2 linked regions of the Homo sapiens genome follow. The protein of the gene in region 1 purifies or fractionates together with the protein of each later gene. This does not show direct contact. Each region holds a gene or a part of one and is shown on either strand. Other genes may lie near its edges.

Region 1 (12,849 bases):
AATCCCAGCACTTTGGGAGGCCAAGGTGGGCAGATCACTTGAGGTCAGGAGTTCGAGACCAGCCTGGCCAACATGGCGAAACCCCGTCTCTACTAAAAGTACAAAAAAATTAGCCAGGTGTGGTTGCGTGTGCCTGTATTTCCAGCTACTCGGGAGGCTGAGGCAGGAGAATCACTTGAATCCAGGAGGTGGAGGTTGCAGTGAGTCGAGATTATACCACCGCACTCCAACCTGGGCGACAGGGCAAGACTCCATCTAAAAAAAAAAAAAAAAAACCTAAATAAAATTTAAAAGCTAGTCCCTTGACCACACCTGCCCACTATGGCCTGCACAATTAGATCTTAATTGATTTCAGTCTGCTCCAGGCCCACTGCCCCTGTCCCCATCTGCCTGGCAAGAAATGTCACAGCTACTTTGGGGTCCCATCCATCCTCCTTCTTCTGTAGAGTGATGTCTGATGACTCAGCTTGGTTGCTGCTAGAAAAATGGGGGATGCCCAGGCCCTTGGTTAATGAGGCCACCATCATAACTTCTGCTCCTTTGGTTTTTGTGGGGTTTTGGGGTGATATTTTTTTTTTTTTTTGGTGAGTTTGTGTGTGAGACAGTCTCACTCTGTCGCTAGGCTGGAGTGCAGTGGCGTGATCTTGGCTTACTGCAATCTCCACCTCCTGGGTTCAAGTGATTCTCGTGCCTCAGCCTCCCAAGTAGCTGAGATTACAGGCACGCACCACCAAGCCCGGCTAATTTTTTGTACTTTTAATAAAGACGGGGTTTCAACATGTTGGCCAGGCTGGTCTCAAACTCCTGACCTCAGGTGATCTACCCGCCTTGGCCTCCCAAAGTGCTAGGATTACAGGCATGAGCCACCATGCCCAGCCTTGTTTGTTTTTGCTCTCACAGGCTGGAGTGCAGTGGTGTGATCTTGGCTCACGGCAGCCTTGAACTCCTGGGCTCAAGCGATCCTCCTCCTGCCTCAGCCTCCTGAGTAGCTGGGACGACAGGTGTGCACCACTATGCCTGGCTAATTTATTTTTAGTAGTGACGGGGTCTTGCTATGTTGCCTAGGCTGGCCTCGAACCCCTGAGCTCAAGTGATCCATCTGCCTCAGCCTCCCAAAGTGCTGGGATTACAGGCGTTAGCCACTGTGCCCAGCCCTCCTTTATTATTTACTGGGGTTCTTCTACTTGCTGCTGCAGAGTGGCTAGAAGATCCTCCCCAGAGTGGTCCCCCCAGCCCACAGCCATCCTCCCATCTTGCTGGCAAACAGGCTGTGTTCTCTCTGCCTCCCTGCACCTCCCTCATGCTGGAGTGAGCTCCATCTTTCCTTCTCCCAAAGTCCGTCTCTCCATCCTCCTCCCCACTTCTGGAGGAGATCCCAGGATTGCACCATTCAGTCCCAGCCTCTCTCCTCTTGAGACCGGAGCAGGAAAAGGAGCCACTCACACCAGGACTTTTGAGTTTTCTTCCTACTGAATATCCTATCGTCCATACTAAGGAAGGAAAAGACTTTTCTTGTGTAATACAATCTGCCCCAAGGTAGCCTTATGTTATTGAATAAAAGGCAAGGATGGGCCGGGTGTGGTGGTGTGTGCCTGTAATCCCCACTATTCGGGAGGCTGAGGCAGGGGAATTGCTTGAACCTGGGAGGAGTAGGTTGCAGTGAACCGAGATCCCACCACTGGACTCCAGCCTGGGCGACAGAGCGAGACTCCATCTCAAAAAAAAAAAAAAAAAAAAAAAAAGCAAGAGTGATGCCTTCTTCCACCCTTGAGGTTTGTTCAAATCCAGCCGACAGGAGTTCCCTGAGGTTACTGAGGAAAACTCAGGGGTCAGTTCCCTAAGGGCTGCTCTGGGCACCTCAGCAGAGATGGCTGGGGCTGCCTCGGGGCCTTAGTGCAGCGGCACCACTGCATCCAGAGATTCATGCCTCTTGTGGCTCAGCCAGCCCCCAGGGGGATGGGAGGTAGAAGGGGCTTGTTCTTCCAGTTATACAGTAAGAGCGGGCTCTCTCGGTGGGCGGGTGGCCCCGTCTGTGGCCGCATTCCCTCCCCTCCCCAGCAATACTCCCTGGCTTCTCTGGCTGAGGCTGCATCTCATCCGCAGGTGGGGGTGAACTCAGATGACTCAGATGATGGATAGTGGGCCAGGGTGGGCCCCCATGACCTGTGTATCTACAGGAAGGCCCACCTGTCCTTTGGCTTCAGCTTCTGTTTCCTGACTTATAGAGAGAGGTGGCATAACAGCTCAAGATATGGGCTCTGGGGTCAGGCAGCCCATGTGCATGGCTGCTTTGCTGTGTGATCTTCAATAAGTAGCTTGCCCTCTCTGTGCGTTCATTTCCTCTTTCATCACATTGGGAATAATGATGAGTACCTCAGGGAGTTATGAAAATTAAAACTAGTTAACTTGTATAAAATTGTTACCATGACAACTAGAAGAGAGGTGATAGATAAATGTTAGATATTTTATCATTATTATTATTACTTGTTTGTTTTCTGAGACAGAGTTTCACTCTTGTTACCTAGGCTGGAGTGCAATGGCGCGATCTCGACTCACTGCAACCTCTGCCTCCCGGGTTCAAGTAATTCTCCTGCCTCAGCCTCCCAAGTTGCTGGGATTACAGGGGCCCACCACCACGCCCAGGTAATTTTTGTATTTTTAGTAGAGATGGGGTTTTGCCATGTTGGCCAGGCTGGTCTCGAACTCCTGACCTCAGATGATCCACCCGCCTCAGCCTCCCAAAGTGCTGGGATTGCAGGCGTGAGCCACCGCGCCCAACCTGATATTTTATTATTTTTAAAGTGATGATTATTCCTAATTCCTGAGACGTGTCTCTCTTTCAGCGTCTTCCTATCTTTTTGGCCACATCTCTCAGTGTGTTCCCAGCTCTCTCCTACTCTCCATCTACCCACTTCTGTCTGTTCTTCTCTTTTGGCCTCAGTCTTTCTGTGACCTTGGTAAACTACTTACCCTCTCTGTGCCTCAGTTTCTCCATCTGTCAAACAAAGTTCATAGCAGCATCTACTTCTTAGATTTTTTTGAGGAATACATTTGTTATTGCATTTAAAATACTTAGAAGAGGGCCAGACATAAGGTAAGTTCTTGACCTCCTTACAATTAATTTAACATATTCTAAAGGTTAATTAATAGTAAGCTACCATTGTTGTCTGTTGTTATTTTCTCTCTCCGTCAGCCTTCATCTCTCCCTCTCCTGTCTGTCTCTCTCTATTTTTGTATCTCCCTTTATCCATCCACTCAACACATCTGCAGTGAATAGTTTTTATCAGTGAACATAACAGACACCAGCCCTGTCCCCAAGGGGCTCCCACACTAATGAAAGAAACAGCTACTAGAAAAATAAACACACAAGACGGGCGCGGTGGCTCTCGCCTGTAATCCCAGCACTTTGGGAGGCCAAGGTGGGCGGATCACCTGAAGTCAGGAGTTTGAGACCAGCCTAGCCAACATGGTGAAACCCCATCTCTACTAAAAATACAAAAATTAGCCAGAATTGGTGGCAGGCACCTATAATCCCAGTTACTGGGGAGGCTGAGGCAGGAGAATCGCTTGAACCCGGGGGGCGGAGGTTGCAGTGAGCAGAGATCGCACCACTCTACTCCAGCCTGGGTAACACAGTGAGACTCCATCTCAAAGAAACAAACAAACAAACAAAAAAGAAAAAAAAAGAAAAAGAAACACATAATAATACGTGTATACATTGTACCAAATTCTCTAAAGGAGCATGTAGGATGCTATAAGATGAAAAAACAAATAGGGGAGTGAAGACCCTGAATCAGACTAGGGGAGGGCTCAGGGAAGGGCTCTGAAGAAGTAACACTTGAGTTGAGACACAATGAAGAGAGCGAAGGGAGAAGTGTTGGAAGCGCATGGAAAACAAAGACAGAGCAACATGAGAGAAGACAGGAGGAAAGTGGAGACAGAGAAAGATAGACAGAGACAAAGGTGCAGAGCCACAGACAGAGAGACAGAGACAGAGATGGGAGGAGAGAGACACAGAGAAAGATGGACAGAGACAGGTGCGGAGACACAGACAGAGAGACAGAGACAGAGATGGGAGGAGAGAGACACAGAGAAAGATGGACAGACACACAGGTGCGGAGACACAGACAGAGAGACAGAGACAGAGATGGGAGGAGAGAGAGACACAGAGAAAGATGGACAGAGACATGTGCGAAGCCACAGACAGAGAGACAGAGACAGAGATGGGAGGAGAGAGAGAGACACAGAGAAAGATGGACAGAGACACAGGTGCGGAGACACAGACAGAGAGACAGAGACAGAGATGGGAGGAGAGAGACACAGAGAAAGATGGACAGACACACAGGTGCGGAGACACAGACAGAGAGACAGAGACAGAGATGGGAGGAGAGAGACACAGAGAAAGATGGACAGACACAGGTGCAGAGACAGACAGAGAGACAGAGACAGAGATGGGAGGAGAGAGACACAGAGAAAGATGGACAGACAGGTGCGGAGACAGACAGAGAGACAGAGACAGAGATGGGAGGAGAGAGAGACAGAGAAAGATGGACAGACACACAGGTGCGGAGACACAGACAGAGAGACAGAGACAGAGATGGGAGGAGAGAGAGACACAGAGAAAGATGGACAGAGACAGGTGCGAAGCCACAGACAGAGAGACAGAGACAGAGATGGGAGGAGAGAGAGACACAGAGAAAGATGGACAGAGACACAGGTGCGGAGACACAGACAGAGAGACAGAGACAGAGATGGGAGGAGAGAGAGACACAGAGAAAGATGGACAGACACACAGGTGCGGAGACACAGACAGAGAGACAGAGACAGAGATGGGAGGAGAGAGACACAGAGAAAGATGGACAGACACAGGTGCAGAGACAGACAGAGAGACAGAGACAGAGATGGGAGGAGAGAGACACAGAGAAAGATGGACAGACAGGTGCGGAGACAGACAGAGAGACAGAGACAGAGATGGGAGGAGAGAGACACAGAGAAAGATGGACAGAGACAGGTGCGGAGCCACAGACAGAGACAGAGATGGGAGGAGAGAGACACAGAGAAAGATGGACAGACACAGGTGCAGAGACACAGACAGAGAGAGAAGGCAAGGTGAGACAGAGACAGGAGGAAAGAGAGACACACAGGGGCAGACAGAGACAGACAGAGATCAGAGGGTCACAGACAGAGGTCAGAGGGAGAGCGAGAGAGAAGGGATCAGAGAGAGAAAGGGACAGGGACAGGGAAAAGAGAGACAGAGACAGAAACCTGCCAGGGCTTCCTGTTCTGTGGTCCCAGCCTATGTCCCGTCCTGCCCAGAGTTATCTGGGGGCGCACGGGCCCAGGACAGAGTTGGGGGAGGGTCTCACTTGGGATGCTTCCAGTCTGGCAGGTGAGAGAAACAGAGACAAGGGGGAGAGAGACAGAGATGGGACCAGAGAGGCAGAGGAAAAGAGAGCCAGAGAGAAAGAGAGACAGACACACGGGGTGGGCTGTGGGGGAAAGAAGTAAGGAAGGAGAAGGAAAGAGTGTTAGAGACCCAGGAGAGACAGAGAGACACAGAGACATTCCTGCCTCGTCGCGGTCACCTGCGGGCACTATCCCTCACCCGCGCCGGCTCCGCGGTCTACACCCACCCACTCCTTGGATGATCTCACCCGGCCTCGTGGCTGTAAACACCACCTCTCCCCTGATGAGTCCCCGCTGTTTCTCGGCAGTCCTGACCTCGGCCTGCCCCTCCGTGCACCCTCCGCGGTCTACGGCACCCTCTCACCCCCCACCCCCCTTCCCGCACCTATGCGTCTCCACAAGATCCGTAGAGCGCAAGCCAGCAGACCAAGCCTCCACGCCATCCTTGGCCCCTCTGCTCCTGGCCCCCCACTTTCCATCCATCGGGCAGTAACTTGGCTCCACATGCAGAGGGGACCCCGTGTCCATTCACCTCTCTTCTCCCTTGACCCCGTCACCTCCCACCTGGGCTGTTGCCACTGCCCCCCGCCCCGCCCCCACCATCACTCTCCAAGCTGGAAGTTTTTAAAAAGTAAATAAGATTATGTCACTCCATCCTCGTGCTTAAAATCCATTGCACTTAAGTAAAACCCAAGCTCCTTAATCCTGGTACGTAAACTCCTGCAGGCCCGCCCGGTTCCCGGTCTGCGCTCCTACCCGCCCTGCCCTCCTACCCGCCCTGCCCTCCTCTGGCTGGAGCCAAGTTCTCCCCTGCACCCCGCAACCGCCCCTGCTGCGGCGACCCTCCTCCTCCTCTTCCCTGGGATCTCAGCTTAAATGTTCCCCTTCTCTGAGTCTCCCCGACCACCACCTTATATGCTGGTCCCTGCAGTTTTCCTTTATGGTCTGTGCCCCCGGGTAGGACGCGATCCCCAGTGACGAGGACTTTGCTGGTTCCTCCTGTGGCCCCAGCACCTGCCGCAGAGCTCGGAGTGTGGTAGGCACTCAGCTGCTTTTCACTGAGCGAAGACTTTTTAGTTCTCCCGCTCACCGAGAGCCTACAATGTGCCTGGCACTGTGTGCCTTTCCCTGAATTACCTCTTTGAATCCACTTGGGAAATGGGGCATAATGGTCACTCCAGTTTTACAGTTGGAAAAACAGGCTCACAGGGGTGCAGTCACTTGCCCAAGGTTCCAAAAATAGTTCGTGATGTAGGCTGGATACGAACCTGGGGAAATTTGCTGGAGAAGCACAGAAAGAGAGGGATGAAGGAGGAGGGGAGAGAGAGAGAGAGATTTAATTTAAAAAGAGAAAGAACATGAGAGAGAACAGGAGAGAATGAGAGGAAATGAAAGAAAACACGAGAAAAATAATGAGAGAGAGAATGAGAGAAAGAAAGAAGAAGAGAAAGAGAAAATGAGAGATACAGGCAAGAGAGAGGTATCTCATGAGAGAGAATAAGAACATGAAAAGAGAAAGAATGAGAGAGAGAGAGAGAAAGAAAAAGGAGAGTGGAGTCTAGGATCTGGGCAGGGGTCTCCTCCCTGGGTCCCTAGACCCTGCTGCCAGCCCCTTCTGGGCCCCCAACCACTGCCTGGTCAGAGTTGAGGCAGCCTGAGAGAGTTGAGCTGGAAGTTTGCAGCACCTGACCCCTGGAACACATCCCCTGGGGGCAGGCCAGCCCAGGCTGAGGATGCTTATAAGCCCCAAGGAGGCCCCTGCGGGAGGCAGCAGGCTGGAGCTCAGCCCAGCAGTGGAATCCAGGAGCCCAGAGGTGGCCGGGTAAGAGGCCTGGTGGTCCCCCACTAAAAGCCTGCAGTGTTCATGATCCAACTCTCCCTACAGCTCCATGTCGCTGGATTCTCAGCCTCTGTGCCTTCTGTCTCCACATCTCTCTAGACAGATCTCTCACTGTCTCTAGTTAGGAGTCACTGTCTCTAGTTAGGGGTCTCTCTGTCTCTCTGAATCTATATCTCCATGTCTAACTCTCAGACTGTCTCTGAGGATATCTCTCAAGCACTCTGTCTCTCCGGCTCTGATTCTCTGTGTGTCTTCCCTCCATGCTTGTTTGTGGGTGGCTAGACACCATCTCTCCCCATTCACAGATGGCTAGATGCTTTCTCTAAACTTTCCTTTCTACCTAGTTCTCTCTCTCTCTCTCTTTTCCCATCTCTCTCTCTCTTTTTCTCTCTCAGTCTCTAAATCTGTCTCTCTAGGTTCTGGGTCCATGGATGGGAGAGGGGGTAGATGGTCTAGGCTCTTGCCTACCTAATAACGTCCCAGAGGGAAGAAAGGGAGGGACAAAGAGAGGGATGGAGAGACTTGGGCTGAAGATCCCCAGACACGGCTAAGTCTCAGTCCTCATCCCCAGGTGCTGACGTGATGGCCACAGCAGGAAATCCCTGGGGCTGGTTCCTGGGGTACCTCATCCTTGGTGTCGCAGGTATCTGAGTATGCGTGTGTGTGTCTGTCCGTGCTTGGGGGCACAGTGTTTGTTAATGTTCAGGTGTGACTCAGTGTCCTCTTGCTTGTGACTGCAAAGCTGCCTGTGAGACGGTACCGTGTTATCCGTCCCCCATGGCTGTGCCCCTGCAACTCCTTGTATCGTGGTAAATTTGTGTGTGGCAGTGTGCCTGGGTGTGTGGTTGTACCTGTGAGACTCTGACAGTTTGTGCCTCTGAATATCTGGTGGAGTGACAACAGTGTAATGATGATATGGGGACAGGGGAAGCCGAGGGTGCAGGAGATTGTGCTTCCTGGGGCGTGATCCATTGCTGGGAATCTGTGCCTGCTTCCTGGGTCTTCAGTCCTGAGATCCCCCTCTCCCATCCCCAAGGAACTCACCTCACAGGACTATAAAACGGTGTTTTGGTGTGCATGGGCTTGTGGCTTGGTGTGACTGTGGGCAAGGCTGGGAGAGGATAGGAGTGACTCGGCGCAGGACCGACTCTTTGAGCATCAGTCTGCGCAGACAAGTGACCCGATCCTTGCTCCCAGCAACAACTCCACCCCCTGAGCTTTAATTCACCCCGAAGGACCCGATCCTACTGCTATGAGCCTAGACTCCTCTGTTGAACCCCTCCTGACCGTGGCTTTGCACCGCGATGGCACCAGTCTCACCTCCAGAGCTCACCCCAGAGCCCTGACTCCGCCCCAGAAGCCCTGGTCCCACCTTCTGAGACTGCCTCTAGCCATAACCCAGCTCTTGAAGCCTTGATGGCGCCCCTGCGCTGTAACCCCAACCCTAGGAGCACTGATCCCGCCTTCTCAGCCCACCCCCATGCCCTGACTCTCCTCCCAGGAGCCCTGACTACCCTGAATCCCTGACCAGGCTCCTGCACCGTGATCACCGCCCCTGGGAGCCCTAGGCCTATATCCTGGACCAGCCCCTGAAGCTCCGATCATGACCCCTGCACCATAACCCCACCCCCAGGAGCCCTGGGTCCGCCCCCTGGGCCCGCCCCCAGCCCTGACTCGGCCCCCCAAGAGTCCTGACTGCTCCTGAAGCCCTGACCACGCCCCTGCTCGGTAACCCCTCCCCCAAGAGCCCTGGGCCCGCCTCCTGAGCCCGTTCCCAGCCCTGACTCCGCCCCGAGGAGCCCTGACTGCTCCTGAACCTCTGACCACGCCCCTGCTCGGTAAGCCCACCCCCAGGAACCCTGGGCCCGCCTCCTGGTCCCGATCCCATCCCTGACTCCGCCCTCAGGATCGCTCGTCTCTGGTAGCTGCAGCCAAATCATAAACGGCGAGGACTGCAGCCCGCACTCGCAGCCCTGGCAGGCGGCACTGGTCATGGAAAACGAATTGTTCTGCTCGGGCGTCCTGGTGCATCCGCAGTGGGTGCTGTCAGCCGCACACTGTTTCCAGAAGTGAGTGCAGAGGTAGGGGGAGTGGGCAGGGCCTGGGTCCGGGGGCGGGGCCTAATATCAGGCTCATCTTGGGGTGCTCAGGGGGAAACAGCGGTGAAGGCTCTGGGAGGAGGACGGAATGAGCCTGGATCCGGGGAGCCCCAGAGGGAAGGGCTGGGAGGCGGGAATCTTGCTTCGGAAGGACTCAGAGAGTCCTGACTTGAAATCTCAGCCCAGTGCTGAGTCTCTAGTGAACTAAGGCAAGTTCTTGTCCCTGAATTTTTGTGAATGAGGATTTGAGACCATGGTTAAGTAGCTCTTAGGGTGTTTAGCGAAGAGGGTGGGGTTGGGGTTAGGAGATGGGGATGGGAATGGGGTTGAAGATGAGAATGGAGGTAAGGATGTAGTTGCCACAAAACTGACCTGCCCTCCGTGGCCCACAGCTCCTACACCATCGGGCTGGGCCTGCACAGTCTTGAGGCCGACCAAGAGCCAGGGAGCCAGATGGTGGAGGCCAGCCTCTCCGTACGGCACCCAGAGTACAACAGACCCTTGCTCGCTAACGACCTCATGCTCATCAAGTTGGACGAATCCGTGTCCGAGTCTGACACCATCCGGAGCATCAGCATTGCTTCGCAGTGCCCTACCGCGGGGAACTCTTGCCTCGTTTCTGGCTGGGGTCTGCTGGCGAACGGTGAGCTCACGGGTGTGTGTCTGCCCTCTTCAAGGAGGTCCTCTGCCCAGTCGCGGGGGCTGACCCAGAGCTCTGCGTCCCAGGCAGAATGCCTACCGTGCTGCAGTGCGTGAACGTGTCGGTGGTGTCTGAGGAGGTCTGCAGTAAGCTCTATGACCCGCTGTACCACCCCAGCATGTTCTGCGCCGGCGGAGGGCAAGACCAGAAGGACTCCTGCAACGTGAGAGAGGGGAAAGGGGAGGGCAGGCGACTCAGGGAAGGGTGGAGAAGGGGGAGACAGAGACACACAGGGCCGCATGGCGAGATGCAGAGATGGAGAGACACACAGGGAGACAGTGACAACTAGAGAGAGAAACTGAGAGAAACAGAGAAATAAACACAGGAATAAAGAGAAGCAAAGGAAGAGAGAAACAGAAACAGACATGGGGAGGCAGAAACACACACACATAGAAATGCAGTTGACCTTCCAACAGCATGGGGCCTGAGGGCGGTGACCTCCACCCAACAGAAAATCCTCTTATAACTTTTGACTCCCCAAAAACCTGACTAGAAATAGCCTACTGTTGACGGGGAGCCTTACCAATAACATAAATAGTCGATTTATGCATACGTTTTATGCATTCATGATATACCTTTGTTGGAATTTTTTGATATTTCTAAGCTACACAGTTCGTCTGTGAATTTTTTTAAATTGTTGCAACTCTCCTAAAATTTTTCTAATGTGTTTATTGAAAAAATCCAAGTATAAGTGGACTTGTGCAGTTCAAACCAGGGTTGTTCAAGGGTCAACTGTGTACCCAGAGGGAAACAGTGACACAGATTCATAGAGGTGAAACACGAAGAGAAACAGGAAAAATCAAGACTCTACAAAGAGGCTGGGCAGGGTGGCTCATGCCTGTAATCCCAGCACTTTGGGAGGCGAGGCAGGCAGATCACTTGAGGTAAGGAGTTCAAGACCAGCCTGGCCAAAATGGTGAAATCCTGTCTGTACTAAAAATACAAAAGTTAGCTGGATATGGTGGCAGGCGCCTGTAATCCCAGCTACTTGGGAGGCTGAGGCAGAAGAATTGCTTGAATATGGGAGGCAGAGGTTGAAGTGAGTTGAGATCACACCACTATACTCCAGCTGGGGCAACAGAGTAAGACTCTGTCTCAAAAAAAAAAAAAAAAAAAAGACTTTACAAAGAGATGCAGAGACACTGAGACAGATAAACAAGCCACAAAGGAGACAAAGGAGAGACAGACAAACAGAAACAGACAGACCACAAGCCCAAGAGAAGCAGCCAGCATTCAGGACATAGGACATCGGGAAGCAGGATTAGATGAAGTCAGGGATCTGGAATGGGACTTCCAACAGATATGTTGCTGGGCTATGTTGTTATTGATGATGGTTCTGTCTTTGTTTCTCAGTCTCATTTAGTTCCTTTCTGAGCCCACATCCATTTCCACCTCTCTGTGTTTTGAATTCTGACTCTCCCTCTCTTCACAACAGGGTGACTCTGGGGGGCCCCTGATCTGCAACGGGTACTTGCAGGGCCTTGTGTCTTTCGGAAAAGCCCCGTGTGGCCAAGTTGGCGTGCCAGGTGTCTACACCAACCTCTGCAAATTCACTGAGTGGATAGAGAAAACCGTCCAGGCCAGTTAACTCTGGGGACTGGGAACCCATGAAATTGACCCCCAAATACATCCTGCGGAAGGAATTCAGGAATATCTGTTCCCAGCCCCTCCTCCCTCAGGCCCAGGAGTCCAGGCCCCCAGCCCCTCCTCCCTCAAACCAAGGGTACAGATCCCCAGCCCCTCCTCCCTCAGACCCAGGAGTCCAGACCCCCCAGCCCCTCCTCCCTCAGACCCAGGAGTCCAGCCCCTCCTCCCTCAGACCCAGGAGTCCAGACCCCCCAGCCCCTCCTCCCTCAGACCCAGGAGTCCAGCCCCTCCTCCCTCAGACCCAGGAGTCCAGACCCCCCAGCCCCTCCTCCCTCAGACCCAGGGGTCCAGGCCCCCAACCCCTCCTCCCTCAGACTCAGAGGTCCAGGCCCCCAACCCCTCCTTCCCCAGACCCAGAGGTCCAGGTCCCAGCCCCTCCTCCCTCAGACCCAGCGGTCCAATGCCACCTAGACTCTCCCTGTACACAGTGCCCCCTTGTGGCACGTTGACCCAACCTTACCAGTTGGTTTTTCATTTTTTGTCCCTTTCCCCTAGATCCAGAAATAAAGTCTAAGAGAAGCGCAGGTTCTGTTTGTAGTGTCCTCCTTGCTTCCCCTTCCATTCAAGAGATTCCAGCAAATGGCTTTCCCTCCATGGGTCGCATTTCCCTATCTGGGAAATGCGAGCTTTGACCAGGAGGGCCACAGAGTTTCAGAGGGAGGGGCCATTCCCTGGATAGTTAAGAGAAACCAGTGCCATGGATGTTGTCCAGTTTCTGAAAAGTCAGGTCAGCAAATGGTAACCGTAGAGATTTTCTTGCTTAGTTTAACTATTCAGCTTTAGTTGATCTATATTCATTTTTGTCTTCTTAACTGCATTTCAAGAATTTTTAATTTGCATGTGTCTCAGAAGTTGGCTGCTGCAGCTAGAGTCTAGTGGGGAGAATTGTGGCGAGGGCTACTGTGAGTGACAGCAACAGAGACCAAGGAGTAGAAAGAGGGAAGTTTGAGGGGCACAATGGGGCAACTGAGGGGCAAGGAGATGGGAGACTGAATAAGTATATAGATAATTTGAACAGTATGATTAACATACTCTATTTAATGGTCATATATGGAATGTTGCACCCAGTATCTGAAAAATATAGAATCATTTCAAAAGACATACAGCTACCAGAATGGCTAAAATTGAAAAGAATAACAGCATCAAGTCTTGGTTAT
Region 2 (11,728 bases), on another chromosome or scaffold:
GTCTGCAGAAGTTTCTGCTGCCTTTTGTTCAGCTATGACCTGCCCCCAGAGGTGGCATCTACAGAGGCAGGCAGGCCTCCTTGAGCTGCAGTGGGCTCCACCTAGTTTGAGCTTCCTGGCTGCTTTACCTAGTCAAGTCTCAGCAATGGTGGACGCCCCTCCCTCAGCCTCACTGTTGCCTTGCAGTTCGATCTCGGACTTCTGTGATAGCAGTGAGCAAGGCTCTGTGGGTGTGGGCCACTCTGAGCCAGGTGCAGTATATAATCTCCTGGTGTGCCGTTTGCTAAGACTGTTGGAAAAGCACAATATTGGCAGGAAGTGTCCTGATTCTCCAGGTACCATCTGTCACAGCTTCCCTTGGCTAGGAAAGGGAATTCCCCAACCCCTTGCGCTTCCTGGGTGAGGCGATGCCCCACCCTGCTTCGGCTCACACTCTGTGGGCTGCATCCACTGTCCAACAAGTCCCAGTTTAGATGAACCTGGTACCTCAGTTGGAAATGCAGAAATCACCCATCTTCTGCGTTGCTCATGCTGGGAGCTGTAGACTGGAGCTGTTCCTATGTAGCCATCTTGGGGGGATTCCCCAAAAGTGCTATCTTTAAATCTTTCATTGTTTCTCTGCTGTTTTGTGTGGTGGTGAGGTCAATGCCAGTGATGAGTGCTGTAGGCCAGTGATTCTCAAAGTGTGATCCCTGGAAGCAGTACAGGCTTCCCCTTGGAATGTGTCAGACATGTAAATTTTGGGGTCCCACTTCAACCTAATGAATCATAATTCTTGGAGTAGGTCCCATAAATCTTTTGGCACACTCCCCAGGTGACTGTGTTGCACATTATATTTTGAGAACCAATACTCTAAGCATGTTTTCAAAGACCCTGTGGCCAGCTCCCCTTACAATTAATGACATATTATTACTACGCTGTGAATTTTTAAAAATATCGTTTACATTGATAACAATCAATCTCATCTAGCCTTTCAAAACTGCTCAGCAATCTTCCTTGAATAAGGCTCTATGTTCTGCAATGTATATTTTATGCCTTCTGAAAAAGCTAAGGATTTTTTTTTTTTTTTTGAGACAGAGTCTTGGTCTGTCATCCAGGCTGAAGCACAGTGGTGCAATCATAGTTCACTGTAGCCTCGACCTTCTGGGCTCAAGTGATTCCCATCTCAGCCTCCCAGGTAGCTGGGACAACAGGTGTGCACCACCATACCCAGTTAATTTGTTTTTCTTGCTGTTAATTTGGATCTGGCTGCGTTGCTCAGGCTGCTTGCAAACTCTTGGACTCAAACAACCTTCCCACCTCCACCACCCAAAGTGCTGGGATTACAGGCATGAGCCATGATCCCCAGCCTGCTGGTTGTGCAAGATGTACACTCATACCTCCAAGGGCTGTCATTACCTTTTAACTAAACTACATTCTATGTCATAAATAATTTTCTAAAATATGGCAGGGAAATAATTTGAGGGAGGTCTCCCTTTCTCTAATTTGCATGTCATCTTACTGCTTAGTATCAGAGCTTCTGCCTCTCTCCTCAAACCTCAGATTCTTACCTCTTCTACCAGGCTCCTCACTCTCAAACAGCTCACACTCACTAAAGCTATCGGACAGAAACACAGTCATCTTCCCACCTGCAAAGCAGCTGCTGGCATCCACACCATGTTCTTCTGTCTCATGTATCAACTCCCTTCTCAGATCGGCCCATCTACCCATGTTCTGGATCCTCCCCACCTTCTCAAGAGCACAGCCCATTTCTGACTCTTACTCTTTTTAGATTCTTCTCTTCAGTATTCAAAGTGCTCCTCATTAAAAATTACTCTTCACTCCTACTCCACTGGACCGTTCCCTATCACTTGCTGGTGACCTCCATGTTGCTGGTCCAGTGAACATTTTTCCAACCTTGGAGCAAAATGAACAATCCTTTCCTAGGGAAATGCTCTGTTCTCCTGACTCACTTCTTTAGCAACTTCTTTTCAAGATGCTTTGCCAGCTTCTCCTCTCTGTACCTGCCAAATATTGGAATTCCTTGTGGCTTTCTCTGGAATCTTGTTTTTCTCTCACTTGACATTCTACCCTTCATGCCAATGGGAAGCAAACTAAGTATGGTGATCCAGTTGCCACAGCACCATATATTGAGATTATTCTTTCCATAGCTATTGAATGGTCTTGGCACCATTATCGAAAATCAATTGGCCACAGACAGCTGGTTTATATCTAGACTCAATTCTATTCTACTGTTCTATATATCTGTCTTTATGCCAGTACCACACTGTTTTGATTAATGTAACTTTGTACTAAGTTTTGATATTGGGCAGTGTGAGTCCTCCAAGTTTGTTTTTCTTTCTTAAAATTGACTGGGCTATTCAGGGTCCCTTGCAATATGAATTTGACAATTATTTCTGTTTTTGTCTTTTTCATTTTTGCTAAAAAAGGTCTGTGGCCATTCTTGATAAATTTGCTTAAGTGGAAGGGTTGTATAATTCTTTACCATGATAAAAGTAAGTATCATGCTTAAAAGCGAATTGAAATATTCTCAAGTTCAAGAAAAAACTAAGAATATCTATTATCATTTTCATTATGTAACACTGTTCTATATATATTAGGCCATATAATTAGAAAAAAGTAAACATATAAAAATTAGAAAAAAAGGTAAAATTAATTCCATTTGCAGCTAATATTGCACACATGAAAACCCAGAAGAAAACCAACGTATGTCAGCAAATTGACAGGGTATAAAATTATCATACAGAAATCAATGGCTTTCATACATACAAACAACTAGTTTAGAATATATGATAGAAAAAAATATCTCATTTACAACAGCAACAGAAATATTAAAATACCTAGAAATAATGATGAGAAAAAATGTAAAAGAACAATTTGGTTAAATAAACTACGATGTATTTACATATACAATGGAAACTCAAATTGTTTCCCTGATTTATGCTTAAGTGGAAAAAAAAGTATAGAAGTCTGTTAGCTAGTAAAACAAATATATCTTATACTTGTGTATGCACAAAAATTCCTTGGAAGTAAATACAAACTATTTATGCCAGTAGTCTATGAGTGAAAGGAACAGGTGGCTGGGTCCAGGAAGGGAAGAAAGATTTTTCACCAGGCAGCTTACACAATTTTTAAATGTTGAACTATATGGATGTTACTTATTTAAAAAAGAAAAAACATTTTGAGAAATTCAGATAGAAATACAGCTATAAAAGGAAGGAATGTGAGAAAGGGAGATATAATGCAAATTCACCCAGAAGACTTTTGGATTTCCCCTCTGCTTTCATTCCTACCTAAAAGTGGATTATAAACTGAATACAGCACATTGTAACGTTAACCCTGCTGTACATAACAACAAGAAATCTGGCCAGGCGTGGTGGCTCACGCCTGTAATCCCAGCACTTTGAGAGGCGGCGGTGGGCAGATCACAAGGTCAGGAGTTCGACACCAACCTGGCCAACATGGTGAAACCCCATCTCTACCAAAAATACAAAAATTAGTCAGGCATGGTGGCGGGTGCCTGTAGTCCCAGCTACTCGGGAGGCTGAGGCAGAAGAATGGCTTGAACCTGGGAGGTGGGAGGTGGAAGTTGCAGTGAGCCAAGATTGTGCCACTGCACTCCAGCCTGGGCAACAGTGCGAGATTCCATCTCAAAAAAAAAAAAAAAAACAAAAAAAAAAACACTAAATGAATTTAATCAAGTTAATCTGGCCAGTCTGCAATGCAATCTAACCAGGATACAAACTGAGGGCTCCATTTACTTAACAAAAACTTACATAGCCAATGTCATTGCCAAGGACTGTTATAAGCAGCCTCTTTTTTAATCCTCATAAAATTGTGAAGAGGTAGATACTATTATTAGCTCCATTTTACAGATACGAAAATTGAGGCAAAGGGATGTTAAGTTGCCTGAAGACACAAAGCCATCCAGTAATATAGCTGGAGGGTGAATCCAGGCAGTCTGTCCTTTCCAGTTCCATGCTCTTACCCACTGTCCACATGTAAATTATAACTGGATTTCTAATTAAAGACCACAATTGGTTTATCTTTTATGGACAGCCACATTTCTTATTAGCAAACGGTTTTTCATTGAAGTGTGTTATGTGTGCACTTGTATTTTTTTGAAAAAACTATTATTAGATTCTTTTAGTAAATCATGTGCACTTGCAGTGGAAAGCCAATACCACTTATACTCAAGCCTCTAGCTGTGTGGGTACGCACTGGTACAATTTCCAGTATGACCATTGATTTAACTCAGTTTCCAATTAGAATATGAAAATGTTAAGACTAAGGAGTGATTTATGCCCACAGAGAAGTCTGAAAACTAGACAACCAATAACACATCAATCATTTTGCTAAATGTTCAAGATCCAGAGGGTTGTAGCCCTTACTTACATCATTTGTTTTTTTTGTTTTTGTTTTTTTAAAAATGTCATATAAAATTGAATTTTTATTTCTTTTCAGGATTTCATCAAAGGTCTTTCCATTTTGCTCCGGGGGACAGTACAAGAAAAACTCAATTGGGCATTTAATCTGTATGACATAAATAAAGATGGCTACATCACTAAAGAGGTAAGGGATGCCTCACCAACATCACAGTAATTTGGACCATTTTCATTTCTTAACTTTAAAATATTAATTGCAATTATTAATTTGAAAAGTTTTTTTGAGGAAATTCCAAAATATTTTATGTAGTGGAAGAAAGATGTACAATTAAAAACTTGGGATAGAAGTAGTTTATGGTGAAGCTCCAAAGTAAATATATAACACATAAAGATTACACCCTTGTTTCCTGCTGGCATCTTAATAAATACTGTGAATGGAATAAAGATCATGGTTGGAATCAGATAGAAAGAAAATGTATCCAACCCATGTTTCAACATTTAGCCTGAAGCCTTTCTTTTCCCCACAGCATGTGATCCATAAGGAAATGAAATTTTACAATCATGGGGATTGTGGAATGACCTGACGCAATGGTGGGGTCTCCAAATGCACGTTGAGGCAGACTATCCAGGAAACAAGGTTCACAGACCAAATTAAGATACTCGTATTACACAGTTTATTAAACCAATTTAAAACACAGCGAGAAGTAAAGAAAGGGATGGAGTAAGTTAACCACGCAGGACAGGCTGCAAATGGGGTTGAAAGACCACTCCCTAAATCCTGGGCATTCTCAGTGTGCCTATGTCCTGTCTCTCTTTGCCTCACGAGACTTCCCCAGAATTGAGTTTTGAGCAAGAGGCCCCACAGACAAAAGGTGCCCAGGGCCAACAGCAAATGACATGAACTTGCGCTACTGGAGAGACACAGGTGCAAGTGTGCCAGGTCACGAGTATAGCCTGATAAGTAGTAATGGGTTTCATTTGTGTTTCTTGCACAGAGGACACCTGGGGCCAGAATAGGTATCACTAGTGGGTGCCAAATTAAGACCTTATGGCTATTGTGTTCATGTATATGGAGCATATCCTAAATAGTGCTTCTTGTATATTTTTATATCATGAATATTTATTACCCAGATACTTAGGATACCTTAAATATCTCTTGTTCTTCAATTCTTACCTCTGTGTTTAACACATCTCAAGAATTCTGCCTGTGTCTAACAAACTACTTGCTACTTATCTATGCTTAAAACATCTTAAAAGGTTTCACCTGTTTACAAATTACTCTATCATTTATAATTGAATACTCTTAAAAGTAAATATATATTCGCTCTGTATTAACCTAATTGAGAGATCTTTCACGTGAAACAAATGTGCAACAATAAATCTAAATGTTTAAGTTATTAGAGATTATTTTTACTCTCATAAGAATGAAAGTGGTAAGGCAAAAATTAGACTGTTTTAGAGAAAAAGTTAATAACAAAATTTAAAGGTGTTTCCCAGGGTCAAAATTTTTTGACTAGTCTTCACATGTGACTTAAGTTAAAGCCACAGTAGGAAAAATACAACAAAAACCCTAATGAACCTTAAGACTTACCAATTAATTTCACTAATTCTAAATGGTGTTTTTTCTCAATATACGATGTGCCGTATATTTGATTCTCAATAGATGGAAACTGATGATCAACACATAAGATATATAATGCAATTAAATAAACATAGTCTACTTAAAGTCTATAGAAATCCAAACATTAAGCCAGCATATTCTTTTCCTGACTATGGTAGATACATGGAAATTTGCTTCCTTTTGAAACCAAGAGATCAGAATTCATTCTTAAATTCTGATTCTTCTGCTCTTAAGGCAGAAAGCTGTTTGTTGCCTTTTCCTTTGGGACAACCAACAGTCGTCTAACAAAGAATCCAACAAACAAAAAGTCAAAAATTTAAAATTGAGTAGGAAAAATCTGTCAGAGCTTCTTAGACTGGTTTCTTCATACATGTGTGCAGCCTCACGTGAGTGCCTTTTATTTTTCAGGAAATGCTTGATATAATGAAAGCAATATACGATATGATGGGTAAATGTACATATCCTGTCCTCAAAGAAGATGCTCCCAGACAACACGTTGAAACATTTTTTCAGGTAGGAATTAAAACAGAAGTCAAGAGGGCATGAAGTTAGGAGAAAATTTCCTGATGTTTGCCATGCACCACGATGATTCAAAAGAGAGCAAAGGAAAATAATTTTTACTGAAACAAAACAGTATTTAGCATCCTATTAATTTAATAGCTTTGGTTTTGAATTTACAATGCTGATAACTGCATTTATTGAACATTCACTAAATCCAAGATACAACACTAAACAGTTCTCATGTTTCACAAGTTTTGTTTTCATTCAGTTTTTACAAGAATCCTATAAATCCTCATTAATCTCATTTTACAGATGAGACAAAAAGCAAGCTCTGAAAGTTTCAGCAAATTGCGCAAGCTCTGTCACATCTAGAAGGTGGGATTTTACCTAGGACAGAGTGACTCTACATCTTCACCACATTATATTGAAAAGGGAAAAGCCAGAAGCATTTGGCCCTATCATTTTTATCTCTAAAAAACTGCTGGTTCCTGCTCTGAAACAGTTCCTCCACGTGAAATAAATAAGCAGCTAGGTTTTCTTTTTATCAGCTTCAGCTCATTTGGTCCAGGTGTGAGGGTATTAAGGGATAAGTCTAAATACAATTTTTGTTTTCTTCCTGAACAGAAAATGGACAAAAATAAAGATGGGGTTGTTACCATAGATGAGTTCATTGAAAGCTGCCAAAAAGTAAGTAATGAAAGTGTAATAACTATCAATTCAGCTATCATAACAGCTAAACTGAGTATTAGCAGCTAGCTACCATGAACTGGGCGAAATATAGAGATCATATGCCTAAGTTTACCACTTCTACAACATGCAGCATAAGCCTACCACTCTGAAAACAAGCACCAATTACATAATCAACATTTAGAGTGCCCACTGAGTCAGGCTATGGAGGAAACCCTGGGGATACAAAAGTTGTACATGTACTGTGTTGATTCCCAAATTCCTTAGAGAGTATTCATGGAGGATAAAACATACATGAGATTTGAATTGCTCTTTGCCAAAACTTAGCATCACTCATATATTATCTATCATATCTCCACAGCATTAGAATTCCTAGATAGCCAAGTATGGCATCACAACAGGCCAAGCTTCTATCTGATTTCTAAGAGAAAAGTCATTGTTTTAGTGTATGTGGACAAGAAATGGCTCTTTGACTGAACTCACTAATGGTCTTCAGTCACAAAAAATAAACAGTGGAAAATTTTCTCTGAAGAGAACTCCAGGTAGTAGCCTGTTATCAAAGAAACCAGTGTTAGCTTACTTAGAATTATTTGACTTGATGTGTGGGCAGAACCACAGTTAAAAATTGTTAAGGCCTGGTACAGTAGCTCACAACTGTAATCCCAGCACTATGGGAGGCTGAGGCGGGAAGATAACTTAAGGCCAGGATTTTGAGTCCAATGTGGGCAACATAGCAAGACCCTATCTATCTCTACAAAAAAAAATTAAGTTAGCTGGGCACGGTGGCACGTGGCTGAAGTCTCAGCTACTTGGGAGGCTGAGGCAGGAAGATCACTTGATCCCTGTTGAGCCATGATTGTGCCACTGCACTCCAGAATGATGGGCAACAGAAATAGACTCTGCCTCAAAACTAAAAAAAGAAAAAAAGAATTTTTCAAATAATCCTGAAAACAAAGAAATCCGTTGTTTCTTTAGTTTTTCTCTTTATTTTTAAATTGTTGTTCTTACTTTTCTGGATGTCTGCTTGTCTCTCAACTTGGATTTCCATGCAGTGGTCTTTGAGAGAATTAATTTGGTGACATTAAGCTGCTTGACGGTGATGTTACTTGGTTTCTAGCAGTGGAAGCCATTATTGGTTCAGCCACCATTTACCACTACCATAAACAGCTCAGTAAGTGCTATTCACATGCAACTGACAAGTGCTCCAATAATGCCCAAAGTCTGTCCCCTAACTCATTTCTAAAGAATATGCTAAACTGAACACAGCCACTGAGCAGTGGTTTCTGCTCCCCAATTCTTTCTCTGTAATTGAGAGACCATTCATTTTTAAAGGCTCCTTCAGGCCATGCAGCTTTAGCCATAACTAGCAGACAGAAAGAGAGATGATTACTGCAAACATGTTACCTCTTAATCCACCACCCTGCCTCCTATGCGCCAGCCTCCAATCTTCATGAACTGCTGGCTCATACACACAAATTTTCCTTGTACCTGTATAAAAGTCTGTGTGATTTGGCCTGTGATCTACATAGAATGCCAAAATTCTCATTTGCTTTGACACACCTCTGCACCTCTGTAGTTTCCATTTTGGCATTATGATTTGAGAAATATCCTCTATTAATACCAAGTAAAGATTTAAATAAAGTGGTTTAATGCCTGGTCAATAGACTCCACAAAATATAAAATGGGTCCTTCATAGTCATCTATGTGGAAAATGGATAGAATAGAATGGCATTTACATTTGCAAACACTTAATATTTGAGCTTTTGGCATAGGTGGTTGAGGTGGTTGATGGGAGGAGGCAATACTCAGGGGCAAAATAGTGTACTTTTCCTTGCAGATATGCTGAATTTAATCGCTCTGTGTTTCTCCCTTACAGGATGAAAACATAATGCGCTCCATGCAGCTCTTTGAAAATGTGATTTAACTTGTCAAATAGATCCTGAATCCAACAGACAAATGTGAACTATTCTACCACCCTTAAAGTTGGAGCTACCACTTTTAGCATAGATTGCTCAGCTTGACACTGAAGCATATTATGCAAACAAGCTTTGTTTTAATATAAAGCAATCCCCAAAAGATTTGAGCTTTCAGTTATAAATTTGCATCCTTTTCATAATGCCACTGAGTTCAGGGGATGGTCTAACTCATTTCATACTCTGTGAATATTCAAAAGTAATAGAATCTGGCATATAGTTTTATTGGTTCCTTAGCCATGGGATTATTGAGGCTTTCACATATCAGTGATTTTAAAATATCAGTGTTTTTTGCTACTCATTTGTATGTATTCAGTCCTAGGATTTTGAATGGTTTTCTAATATAGTGACATCTGCATTTAATTTCCAGAAATTAAATTAATTTTCATGTTTGAATGCTGTAATTCCATTTAAATTCCATTTATATACTTTAAGGAAACAAGATTACAACAATTAAAAAAACACATAGTTCCAGTTTCTATGGCCTTCCCACCTTCTGTTAGAAATTAGTTTTATCTGGCATTTTTAAACATTTAAAAATTATTAAACATTTAAAAATTAGTTTATTATCAGATATCAGCATATGCCTAATAAAACTTATTTTAATAAGCATTTAATTTTCCATAATATGTTACAGCCAAGGCCTATATAATAATTTTGGATTTGTTCAATCTTTCTTACAGGCTGTTTTCTATTGTATCAATCATTAGTATCAATCATTAAGTGGAAGTTGAAGAAGGCATCAAACAAAACAAGGATGTTTACAGACATATGCAAAGGGTCAGGATATCTATCCTCCAGTATATAGTAATGCTTAATAACAAGTAATCCTAACAGCATTAAAGGCCAAATCTGTCCTCTTTCCCCTGACTTCCTTACAGCATGTTTATTTATATTACAAGCCATTCAGGGACAAAGAAAGAAACCTTGACTACCCCACTGTCTACTAAGAACAAACAGCAAGCAAAATTAGCAAGCAAAATTCACTTTGAAAGCACCAGTGGTTCCATTACATTGACAACTACTACCAAGATTTAGTAGAAAATAAGTGCTCAACAACTAATCCAGATTACAGTATGATTTAGCTCATCATAATTCAGATTATTTTTAATCATCTTAGCCAAAACTGTAAAGTTGCCACATTACTAAAGCCACACACATCGTCCCTGTTTTGTAGAAATATCACAAAGACCAAGAGGCTACAGAAGGAGGAAATTTGCAACTGTCTTTGCAACAATAAATCAGGTATCTATTCTGGTGTAGAGATAGGATGTTGAAAGCTGCCCTGCTATCACCAGTGTAGAAATTAAGAGTAGTACAATACATGTACACTGAAATTTGCCATCACGTGTTTGTGTAAACTCAATGTGCACATTTTGTATTTCAAAAAGAAAAAATAAAAGCAAAATAAAATGTTTATAACTCTACTGTCTATGTTACAGGTCTTTTCCAAGAAATTTTGTAATTAATTAAATCTTACAGTACTTTCTAGATGGCAGATAGCTCTGGATGGTGCTCAATGCAATGAAAACAGGTAAAAGCAAGGCCAGCAGGCAGGCAGCTGTTGTAGCCAGAGGGAATTGCTTCTATTACATCAAAATTCTGAACTATGTCTATATTATATTTTAAAAGCTTCTTAAAAATTGCTAAACATAAGCACAACAAAATCAATGAATGCATGTACAAGTTTTAACATTTTAATTGCTGAATATCTTTAAGTGAACATCAGTATTTTCTGGCTATGAAATGCAAAAATAACACATTTACTTAAATACAGTTAACACCTAAAATTTAGGTAGTTGTAATGAGTTGTAATAAACAACATACTTGTAATAGAATTTACAGAATTAGAAAAAATTTTTTAAACTAGAATACTCTGAAAATTTTCCAAGCATTGTACATTATAAAATACATATTTACAAATAATATTAGTAGTGTATTCATGGGGCCAGGCATGGTGGCTCACACCTGTAATCCCAGCACTTTGGAAGTCCACTGTGGGAGGATCACTCACCAGAATTCTGAGACCAGCCTGGACAACAGAGTGAGATCCCATCTCTACAAGCAAATTTCAAAATTAGCTGGGCATGGTGGCACACGCCTATAGTCCCAGCTAATCAGGAGGCTGAGATGAAAAGGATCATCTGAGCACAAAAATTTGAGGCTTGCGGTGAGCTATGATTATGCCACTGCACTCCAGTCTGGGCAACAAAGCAAGACCGCTTTTCTCTTTTAAAACAATTTTTTAAAAGTGTATTCACAAACATTTGTCCACTATTTTAAACTTCTATAGCCTTGTTAAACATTAAACCCAAGAAATGGCAAACTATCTATAAAAATAAGGGCACAGCTACAAACTGATTGCCAAAAAAGTGTTGTTATAAATAAAAAGACACTAGAAAATACAAATACATCTTATCTTGCAAACTCAATAATGGTTCTTCGCACAAATAATAAAAATACAAAAAATAAACCTCAAAATTGTACTCTTATAGAACTTATTTTAATAACTTTCCATTAGTAACTGTTCTTTTTTGTTGATGAATAACTTTGATTCAGTG

What was found.
Region 2: the proteins of KLK4 (region 1) and KCNIP4 purify together in Homo sapiens (affinity purification with mass spectrometry; 2 studies listed by BioGRID and IntAct, with this or other methods). This does not show direct contact.

The regions. Positions count from the first base shown.
Region 1 is NC_000019.10:50,905,718-50,918,566, reverse strand, and holds KLK4 (kallikrein-4 isoform 1 preproprotein), read left to right. Parts: upstream 1-7,171; 5' UTR 7,172-7,228; intron 7,229-7,817; 5' UTR 7,818-7,828; coding exon 7,829-7,889; intron 7,890-9,152; coding exon 9,153-9,315; exon of another isoform or gene 9,316-9,327; intron 9,328-9,737; coding exon 9,738-9,988; intron 9,989-10,071; coding exon 10,072-10,208; intron 10,209-11,480; coding exon 11,481-11,633; 3' UTR 11,634-12,216; downstream 12,217-12,849. UniProt on the Homo sapiens protein: Has a major role in enamel formation. Required during the maturation stage of tooth development for clearance of enamel proteins and normal structural patterning of the crystalline matrix.
Region 2 is NC_000004.12:20,727,472-20,739,199, reverse strand, and holds the end of KCNIP4 (Kv channel-interacting protein 4), read left to right. Parts: intron 1-4,464; coding exon 4,465-4,572; intron 4,573-6,414; coding exon 6,415-6,519; intron 6,520-6,642; exon of another isoform or gene 6,643-7,131; coding exon 7,132-7,194; coding exon of another isoform or gene 7,195-7,263; exon of another isoform or gene 7,264-9,070; coding exon 9,071-9,118; 3' UTR 9,119-10,594; downstream 10,595-11,728.